Linked DNA regions of Homo sapiens: region 2 is linked to region 1. The links come from fine-mapping of genetic effects on gene expression. A gene starts in region 1. The other region holds a variant in brackets. All regions are shown on one strand. Distances are from middle to middle. Region 1 holds the start of CPLANE2 (ciliogenesis and planar polarity effector complex subunit 2). Region 2 overlaps CELA2A (chymotrypsin like elastase 2A).

Evidence for each region. PIP is the estimated chance that this variant, and not a neighbour inherited with it, causes the effect. A credible set is the group of variants that fine-mapping cannot tell apart.
Region 2: its variant is the best candidate, but not a certain one, in a credible set for the expression of CPLANE2 in prefrontal cortex (GTEx, PIP 0.62).

Annotation. Positions count from the first base shown.
Region 1 is chr1:16,234,956-16,240,327 of GRCh38, forward strand. It overlaps CPLANE2 (ciliogenesis and planar polarity effector complex subunit 2), which reads right to left and starts at 2,228. Exons shown (of 5, transcript NM_030907.4): 1 at 1,676-2,228. The coding sequence starts at 1,787. RefSeq lists an enhancer at 1,721-2,265 and a silencer at 2,106-2,285.
Region 2 is chr1:15,468,372-15,473,743 of GRCh38, forward strand. It overlaps CELA2A (chymotrypsin like elastase 2A), which reads left to right. Exons shown (of 8, transcript NM_033440.3): 8 at 3,619-3,720. The coding sequence ends at 3,636. Among named protein-coding and RNA genes, the nearest start is that of CELA2B, 5.0 kb to the right of the region's middle. The variant G/C (reference allele first, on the strand shown) is at 2,723.

The sequences.
Region 1 (5,372 bases):
TCAGGTGATCTGCCTGCCTCAGCCTCCCAAAGTGCTGGGATTACAGGCGTGAGCCACCGTGCCCGGCCTCATCTGTGGCTCTTAATACTCAACCTAATTTTACAGAAGTCTGGGATACAAAGAGACTAGCCTAAGCATTATAGTCAGTCTGTTGATATTTATTTACTAGCTGCTCTCAGCGTTTGTTGTGGGGCCTGCATGACAACCACTGAATGATACATTCAGGTGCATAAACCCAGCTGTTAAAAAAAAACCCAAATGTCTGCAGTTAAAGTAAAAACACAAAAATTAAAAGCCATCACTGCCATTCCTCTAAGTTATGGCTGCTTAATCCTATCTGTGGCATAGATAATATGGTCAGTGGATTCTATGATGTTCCCAGAAAATCAGCTCAACCTTCACTCAATTCTCTTCCACTCAACACAACTAAATGCAAAATAAATACAATAACAGCCAACCTTCAGTGAACACCCACTGCATGCCAGAACCTGCTTGGTATGTTACAAACACCCTCCTTATTAATTTCCCCAGTAACTCTATGGGGTAAATACTGTGATTATCCCCATTTTACAGAGGTGGGACTTGAGGCTAGAGTTCACTTATTCCCAGCCATACAGCTAGCAGTGGTGGAGCCTGGGTCACTTGCCTGGGTATGTGTGACCCCAAATACAGTGTTGCCAGCCATCATGGGATTAGAGGGACAGTGGCCATATTAGAGGGTCTTTTTTTTTTTTTTTTTTTTGAGACGGAGTTTCACTCTTGTCACCCAGGATGGAATGCAATGGCTCGATCTAGGGTTGCTGCAACCTCTGCCTTCTGTGTTCAAGCGATTCTCCTGCCTCAGCCTCCCAAGTAGCTGGGATTACAGGTGCCCGCCACCACGTCCGGCTAATTTTTGTATTTTTAGTAAAGATGGGGTTTCGCCATGTTGGCCAGGCTGGTCTTGAACTCCTGACCTCAGGTGATTTGCCCACCTCGGCCTCCCAAAGTGCTGGGATTACAGGCCACTGCGCCCAGCCTTCTAGAGGGTCATTTTTTGAATTTAATATAATTTCTTTTAAAAAAACAAACAAACAGTTGACTTATTCACAAATTTTGGTTCTAGCTATCTCACTCTCTGGTCTTAAGTCTTCTGGCACCTTGCTTCTCCTGGCCAGAGCTGGGCTCCACAGCTGATTCCAGGCACCTCTGCCGGCCTGACAGCTGGGCCCTGCCTGGGTGAGTCAGTTTCACCATGGGGAACACCAGCGTCTCATCCCAGAGACAGCAGGACATGGAAGAGGCTCACCTCTATTTATTGGGGTGTGATCTTAGCCAAGTCTGTACCATGTGCTGTTGAGAGGTTAAATGGGCGTGCACTGTGTAACGTGCCCAACAGAGGGCCTGGCACCAGGGGAGTGCTCAATCAACTGCATCTCTGGTGACAGTGGTTGCTGGCAAGGTTTCTGCTGTTTCCATGTTCCTGGCTCTGACGATGGAATTAGCTCTAAGGAGATTTAGGTGTGGGGGTCCCAGAGCTAGGGCTTTCAGTCCCCCAGGCTGAAGACTGCTGAAGACTGCAGTGGAGCAGGCCCTCACTGCCCTGCCTCTCTGCTCTCCTCAGGGAGCAACAGGTGACACTCTTCTCCCCAGGGAAAGACAAGTGGCGGGCTAGAGGAAAGGGGGAGGCACTTACCAAACACCCGCCGGCGGTTCTTGCGCAGAATGCAAGCCAGGTACTCCTTGCCCTCGGCACTCTCGTGCCAGTTTGGGACAACCACCGAACCGGGCACGGGAGGTCTGGCCATGGCTGGGCACCGCGACGGGGTAGGGAGGTGACAGAATGCTGAGAGCAGGGAGTGGGAAGGGGAGTGACAGTACCAAGCCGGGCCTGTGATCCCTCTTAACTGCCCTCTGACTCTCCCGGGGGGCCCCAGAAAGTGCAGTCCCTCAGCCGCCTCTCTCCTTCGCAATGCTCCCTGGGGATAGTCATCCCATTACTGCCCATGGAGGGTATTCACACAGCCCCTCTCCCCTTGTCACCTCCGGGGGTCAGACAGCCCCGCTTCTCCTCTACCTTCTAGATCCCGACTCCCAGGGCTACCTAGCCCTCCCCGTCAGCAGTCCCGGCGGCGAACCGACCTGGGTGCCGAAGGCCCCTTTAAACGCCCACCCGCACTCCCGCCGCCCCAGCCCGCCGGGCCCACTTCCGCCCCGCCTGCGTCCGCCTTCTGCGCGTGCTGGCAGCTCCGGCGCAGGTGCGCGCGGCGCATGTGCGGAGGTTGTTGCCATGGAGACGCCGGAGGTTGGGTTGGGCGGGTTCCGGGAGGCGTTCGTCCCTCCTACAACGTCCGCAGCCTGCGCCGCGCGGTGGCTCTGGACTAGGCCTTTTCCTCTGGGTTGTGGATCCTCTTCTCTATGACTCCGTCCGATCCCTAGTCTTTCTTCCAAAACATCATGAAACCCCCCCTCCAGGAGCCTTTCATGCTTCTCTGTGTCTCAGTTTCCTCTTCTATAACGTGGACGTAACATGTTATTCCCTCCATAGCAGTGCTCCATATGTTTAGTTATGATTGTTGCTATTATTAATATTATTGCTCTATTAATCCTGCTTGGCAGGACCTCTAGATGACTTAAACATCTCTGGCTTCACTGATGGGGACACACACCAGCTCAGAGAGGTCAAGGGACTTGGCTCAAGTTTTAAAAAATGAGTCAGAGGCCCGCTGGATTGTATTTTTCATTCATTCATTCATTCAACAAATACTGAGCACCTAGCTGGGAATACAGTGGCCAACAAGAAGTCCCTGCTCTCCTGGAGCTGACTTTTCAGCTCTGAAACTCTGAGCTCCTCTCCACCGTTCCAGCACTGGACACCAGGCCTGTTACCCAGAAGGTGGGTGCTCAGTAAATGCCCACTGGTTGGAAAGAGTGCAGGTGGGTCATTACTGAGAGTTTGTCTATTACATTTAATTTTTACCATTATCTTTCCGCAATGCCTTCAAGTAGGGCAAATCACTGTTTTGAAAGGAATAATTTAGGAGTTAAGCTTTACCTAAGGCCACCCAAGTGCCAGACAGTGGGGACTTTACAGGGGTCACCTGATTTAATTCTATAAACAAACCTGTGTAAATAGTATTACCCTCTTGTACTGACGAAGACTCTCAGAAACATAACGTGACTTGTCTGAGGTCACACCGCACAGCTAGTCAGTGTGAAACCGACTCAGAACCCACAGCTGGCTGGGTGTGGTGGCTCACGCCTGTAATCCCAGCACTTTGGGAAGCTGAGGCGGGCAGATTGCTTAAGCTCAGGAGTTTGAGACCAACCTGGGCAACATAGTAAGACCCTGCCTCTACAAAAAAAAAAATACAAAAATTAGCCGGGCACAGTAGTGCACGCCTGTAGTCCCAGCTACTTGGAGGCTGAGATGAGAGGATTGCTTGAGCCCGGGAAATGGAGGTTGCAGTGAGCCGAGATCATGCCACTGCACTTCAGCCTGAGTGACAGAGCTAGGCCCTGTCAAAAAAAAAAAAAAAAAAAAAAAAAGAACCCACACTTACCTGACTCTAAAGTACTTATCTGTTCTGCCAGTTTGGGTTTTGTGTTTTTAAAACTTTGCCCCTAGCCACTAGGAGGGCTGTTCCTAGGGAAGCAGAAAGCAGCCAGAGGACTACGAACTCACAGATTTTTAAGGCCCATTATGTCTAAGAGAGGGGATGAGGATGTGTAAGACAAGGTGCTTTCTCTCAACTTGCTCACGCTGTGGCTAGGCAGAAAAACCAGATGAATAACCATTCCTACAGGATTCTGCAGGTGGAATCCTTTGCCCATACTCCCAGGTCACATGGTTCCCATTCCTGCAGCTGTCACATCTGCCCAGTCAGGGAGATTCACAGCTGTCCAGAGCTCTCTCCATGGGCCAGGAGTCACTCAGTGGCAGGGCTCTGATCTGAATTATTTCTGGATTTCCAGACTTCACATCCACCCATCTTTGGCTCGTGGAGGGCTCAGTGAGCGTGTGAGAAAATGAAGCAACTTGGCAGAATGAACGTGCCTGTTAATCTGCAACCCAGAGAAGATGTAAAGTCCTCTTGGGGCCATGTGCGGTGGCTCACGCCTGTAATCCCAGCACTTTGGGAGGCTGAAGCTGGTGGACCACTTGAGGTCAGGAGTTTGAGACCAGCCTGGGTAACATGGCAAAACCTTATCCCTAAAAATATACAAAAAAATGGCTGGGCGCGGTGGCTCACGCCTGTAATCCCAGCACTTTGGGAGGCTGAGGCGGGCAAATCACCCGAGGTCAGGAGTTCAAGACCAGCCTGGCCAACATGGTGAACCCTGTCTCTACTAAAAATACAAAAATTATCTGGCTGTGATGGCAGGCGCCTGTAATCCCAGCTACTCTGGAGGTTGAGGCAGAAGAATCGCTTGAACCTGGGAGGTGGAGGTTGCAGTGAGCAGAATCATATCACTGCACTCCAGCCTGGGTGACAGAGCTGAATAAATAAAATTATGTATTCAGTGGAAGGCTGATCAAGGACTCAAAAGAATGCAATCTTTTGTCTCCTATCTACTTTTTTTTTTTTTGAGACAGAGTCTCACTCTGTCGCCCAGGCTGGAGTGCAGTGGCACAATCTCGGCTCACTGCAACCTCTGCCTCTGAGGTTCAAGTGATTCCCCTGCCTCAGCCTCCCAGGTAGCTGGGACTATAGGCATGCCCCACCATGTCCGGCTAATTTTTGTTGTTGTTGTATTTTAGTAGAGACGGGGTTTCACCATGTTGGCCAGGATGGTCTGGATCTCCTGACCTCATGATCCGCCCACCTCAGCCTTCCAAAGTGCTGGGATTATAGGCATGAGCCACTGCACCTGGCCTTGTCTCTTATGTATTTCTAACCTGGAAGCCCCTGCTTCAAGCTGTCCTGTCTTACCAGACCAAACCAATGTACATCTTACACATATTGATTGAGGTCTCATGTCTCCCTAAAACTTAAATGCAAACTGTACCCCTGACCACCTTGGGTATATGTCTCAGGATTTCCTGAGGCTGTCACGGGCACATCCTTAACCTTGGCAAAATAAACTTTCTAAATTGACTGTGACCTGTCTCAGATATTTGGGGTTCACACATCCAACCCCGACATTCTGTGTCAGGGGCTGGGTAGGTCTGTGAGCCTGCAGATTTGACAAAAGCACTAGGCAGTTCTGAAGTTGGGGTCTATATGAGTCAGCCCAGGCTGCTGTAACAAAAATACCACAGTCTGGGTACTCTAAACAACAGAAATTTATTTTCTCATAGTTCTAGAGGCTGGAAGTCCAAGATCAAGGTGCCAGCAGAGTTGGTTTCTGGGTGGGGCCTCTCTTCCTGGCTTACAGATGGCCTCTTCTCT
Region 2 (5,372 bases), 770 kb before region 1:
GGCAAATAGAGCTGAGTTGGTCCCCCTGTCTTGTAAAAGTAAACAACTCAGAGAGGTGTCTCCTTTCAGCTTCCACAATAACTCAATTTGTTTTTAACAATGAACACATTTGTTTATAACAATGAGCATTAAAATTATTTATTAAAAATAATAGGCCAGGTGCCATGGCTCATGCCTGTAATCGCAGCACTTTGGGAGGCCAAGGAGGGAGGATTGCTTGAGCCCAGGAGTTCAAGAGCATCCTGGGCAACATAGCAAGACTCTGTCTTTACAAAAAAATTTTTTTTAATTACTCAGGCACGGTGGTACATGCCTGTAGTCTCAGCTACTTGGGAGGCTTGGGTGGAAGGATCACTTGGGCCCGGGAGGCCAACGCTGCAGTGAGCACTTAAGCCTGGGCGACATAGCAAGACCCTGTCTCCAAAAATAATGATAATAATACCTGGCATCAATATTAAGGAGCAGCCATGGATACACGCAGCAGTAGGTGAAAGCAGCCAGAACAGGAAACCCCGTCACAAGAAAGGGATGCCTGGTGGCTCACGCCTGTAATCCAGGCACTTTGGGAGGTCAAGATGGGCAGATCACCAGAGGTCAGGAGTTCGAGACCAGCCTGGTCAACACGGGGAAACCCCGTCTCTACTAAAAATACAAAAATAAGGTGGGTGTGGTGATACGTGCTTGTAATCCCAGCTACTCAGGAGGCTGAGGCAGGGGAATCACTTGAACCTGGGAGGTGGAGGTTGCAGTAACCCGAGTTCGCACCACTGCACTCCAGCCTGGGCGACAGAGCGAGACTCCATCTCAAAAGAAAAAAAAACACACAAAAAAGAAAGAGTTGCCCATGAGAGGGCAGAGGAGCCACCATGCCTCGTACTGGATGCTAGAAGGAAAGAGTCGGACACTCTGTGCCAATGAGGGACCAGCTCAGTTTGCTCTTCTGTAAAATGGGACTTGAACTAGACCAGGACTCCTCCACAATTTAGGCGCTAGAGCAAATGGGAGTTATGGTATTCGTGGCAGAGCCCCTAAAGAAGGGGAAAGCTGGCATCTGACTTCACTAAGTTTAATTTGCAGAGAAGTGTTAAATTGAATTAAACTGACACTTATAAAACCAAATATGAAACTGCAGCCATGAGCACGTGGTCACAGGAGGAAAACTAAACTGTCAAAATAAGCAGGTGGCTGCTTCCAAGTGTTCCCACTGATTCTTGCCAGATCCTTGTTCATTTGTCTGTCTGCTGGCATCCTTTTGCCAACAAGTGGTCACAAGCAGAGATTCCAAAGACGTTTGTTGGACAAAAATGAAAAATCAAAAAGACAGTAGCCATTAATCATTAATGGTGCTTTTTTATATCTAAATTGGGAAAAACCCATCTGAGTCCACCTTTGGAGGCGCCACCCACATGTCAAAGGAGCCTGGCCTGAGACTGACTGGACGAGAGGCTGCTTAGGGGCCTTTCTCAGCCAAATCCTAAGACCGTTTTCCAGCCCCAGCTGCTGTGGGAGTCACCATGCAGCTGGTCCTGGCAGCAACCTGGGGACCTGAAGCAGGGGCAGGGGCAATTGTCCCAATTTTTTTTTCCCAGCATCAGCTGTTCCCAGCCACAGACACAAGCACAACAGAACAGGCCAGATCCCGAAGCATGGCCAGATGGCAGCAGGGATCCACGGGGCAGCACGCCTCGCAAGGCAGCTGGGCAGAGGCCCTGTGTTCATGGGAGAGCAGTCGGGACAGGCACAGATGCCCGGTAACGGGTTTCAGAAGGGGGAGAGCCAAGCAACCAGCTGTCCTTGGGTGGGGGCTGCCCCTGGCAGCAGCGGAGGAGCTAGTGAAACCTTGCAGTAGCCCCAACCCAGGGACACAGTGTGTGCAGCCTGGAGTCACATACCACTAGAGCCCTGGGGGTGCCTGAGAGCACCTGCCTGGATAAACCCAGACAGGTGATGAGCCAAGGTCAGGAAATACAAGCAAAAGAGCAGAGAAGCAGAGGAGACAAGTGGCCTGGGGCATTCATCCTTTCAACAAATGTCCATTGAATGACAGTCACATGTGAACCTTCAGCAATCCTTAGTTTTTATTCTTTTTCCGGAAGGTAATACATACTCTTTGTAAAAATATTAAAAGACTATAAGAGTATCAGGTAAAAAAGTAAGAAGTCCCCCCTCATTTTACATCTCCAATTCCACTCTCCAGAGGTAATCATTGGTTTTGTTTTTGTTTTTTAAGACAGAGTCTCGCTCTGTCACCCAGGCTGAAATGCAGTGGCTTGATCGCAGCTCAATGCAACCTCCACCTCCCGGGTTCAAGCGATTCTTCTGCCTCAGCCTCCTGAGTAGCTGGGATTACAGGCACACACCACCATGCCCAACTAATTTTTGTATTTTTAGTAGAGATGGGGTTTCACCATGTTGGCCAGGCTGGTCTCAAACTCCTGACCTCAGGTGATCTGCCCGCCTTGGCCTCCAAAAGTGCTGGGATTACAGGCATGAGCCACTGTGCCTGGCCAAGTTGTCATTGTTAACAGCTTGTGTGTGGTCTCAACTTTATGTGCATATATAGCTATATATTTACGTAGATAGACACTGTCTTCTATGCAAAAACTAAGATCTGAGTCTTCATACTGTTCTGCAGCTGTTTTTCACTTAACACCTTATCACATTTTACATGTTAGTACATACATGTCATTCTTTTGAACAGCTAAATAGTATTCCATAGTTT[G/C]AGTGTAATGAATGCAGCTTTCATGTTTCCTATTTTTCACTCTTACATTGTGCAATGAACATCCTTGGACATAATTCTTGCACACTGGTCTGAGTATTTGTGCTGTAGCAGCTGGATCTCCTGCAGTTTACAGCACTGGATCATGAAGTTGGCATATCAAAATGTTTAACAGGCTGGGCGCGGTGGCTCACGCCTGTAATCTGAGCACTTTGGGAAGCTGAGGCGAGTAGATCACTTGAGGTCAGCAGTTTGAGACCAGCCTGGCCAACATGGTGAAACCTCATCTCTACTAAAAATGCAAAAAATTAGCCAGGCATGGTGGTGCATGACTATAATCTCAGCTACCCGGGAGGCTGATGCATGAGAATCACTTAAACCTGCATAGTGGAGGTTGCAGTGAGCCCAGATCGCCCTACTGCACTCCAGCCTGGGCAACAGAGTGAGACTGTCTCAAAAAGAAAACAAACAAACAAATAAAAAAAAAAACGTTTAACAGACACTGATCAACAGCCTCTGGAAACAGTTATAGCCCCAACCACAGTGCATAACTGCCTTGCAAACAGCAGTTTTGATTTAAGAAACAAATGAAATCTAAAAATATGCCATCCACACATTTGGAATATAATTTTTAGGGGTTCGAAGGCCCCCTACCCTGAAGCCCACACAGGACTCCTGGCTAAGACCCCCTTTACAGGAAGACCCTAACAGGTCAATGAAAAGCTGTGATCACATCTTTTTTTCCGAAACGTCATCAGAACTCCTCAGGCAGGAGCTACTGTAGTGTGGGCTGCCTGTAACTCACATGAGTAGCTTAGCCCAGGAGGACAGAGACAGGAAACTGCCATGCACAGCTCTGCGGTTAGGTGAACCTGACGATTATCTTGTGTGTCCTGCAGGTGATTGCAAATAACTAACCAAAAGAAGTCCCTGGGACTGTTTCAGACTTGGAAAGGTCACAGAAGGAAAATAATATAATAAAGTGACAACTATGCAAATCACATCTTGATGAGAGATTTATTAGCAATCCGTCCTAACATCCAGGGCTGTGGGCACAGTGGCACAACCCTGTAATCCCAGCACTTAGCACTTTGGGAGGCCAAGGCAGGCAGATCACTCGAGTCCAGGAACTCAAGACCAGCCTGAGTAACATGGCATAACCCTGTCTCTACTAAAAATACAAAAATTAAATGGGCGAGGTGTTACCCACCTGTAGTCCCAGCTACTCAGGAGGCTGAGGTGGGAGGATCACTTGAGCTCAGGAGGTAAAGACTGCAGTGAGCCAAGATCACTTAGTCGCACTCCAGCCTGGGCGACAGAGTGAGACCCTGTCTCAAAAAAAAAAAAAAAAAAAGAATTTCGCATCTACGTCACCCTGCCCTACTGAGACCTCAAGGACCCAGCCCACTTTAGAACCTGACACATGACATCGTTGTCCAACAATATATAAATGGAGCACTAAGCTCCAGCGAAGGAAGTGGGCTGTAGCAGCTTCCTGCACTCTGCCTCCTCTGCCTCTCTTTCCTCCCCTCCCAGCACAGAAGCCTGGATTTCTGTGCAGGCGCTGCCCCATGGGATCCCGGAGGTTCTGCCGAAACCTCATGGCCTAGGACCAAGGCTGGAGCCCGTGCTCCAGGCCTGGCCAATCAACACATTGCATCCCCTTCCCCACCACAGCGATTGGCTCAGGGATGGGCATGTGACCTGAGACAGGTCCAATCAGAGAGGTTGCACGACTCGTGCAGGGAGCTACCGAGGGCTGTCACTCATTCACTGCATGGGTGTGAGGATGAGGGGATGTGAGGCTACAAAGCAAAACGAGAGGGGAAGGGGGAGACGGGGTTATTTTGCTCCCCAGCATACATCTGGCAATGTGTGGAGACATTTTTAGTTGCGGCAACTGTGTGGGGAGGGGGAGGGACTGGCATCTAGCAGCCTGGGGCCAGGGATGCTGTCAAACTCCTGCAAAGCACAAGACATAGACACAGCCCTCAAAACAAGAATCATCTCGCCCAAAATGTCAACACTGCTGCAGTTGAGGAACTCTGGACCAGAGATGCGGTGGTGATCTTGTCCTCAAGGAAGGGAGAACCCAGAGCAGCTACAGGCCACTTAACGGAGCCTGAGATGAGACCTCAAAGCAGAAGGCAGAAGCAAAAGTTGAAGAAAAGCCAAGTCCAGGGACCATCACCAGGGCCCTGAACCCAGCTCTGCTCCTGGACTTTGCCATTTTGTGGCCCAATGAATGGCCCTTTGGCTTAAGCACAACTGAGTGAAGTTTTGTGTCACTTTCCAATCCTGAAAGCGGCTGGGTACAGTGGCTCACGCCTGTAATCCCAGCACTTTGGGAGGCCGAGGCAGGTGGATCACCTGAGGTCAGGAGTTCGAGACCAGCCTGACCAACATGGTGCAACCCTGACGCTACTAAGTAATACAAAATTAGCCGGGTGTGGTGGCGGGCACCTGTAATCCCAGCTACTCGGGAGGCAAAGGCAGGAGAATTGCTTGAACCTCCTAGTGGAGGTTGCTGTGAGCCAAGATGGTGCGGCTGCATTCCAGCTTGGGTGACAGAGTGAGACTCTGTCTCAAAAAAAAAAAAAAAAAAAAAAAAAAGTCCTGACAGCAACATGATGGAACAGACTGAGCATCTGTT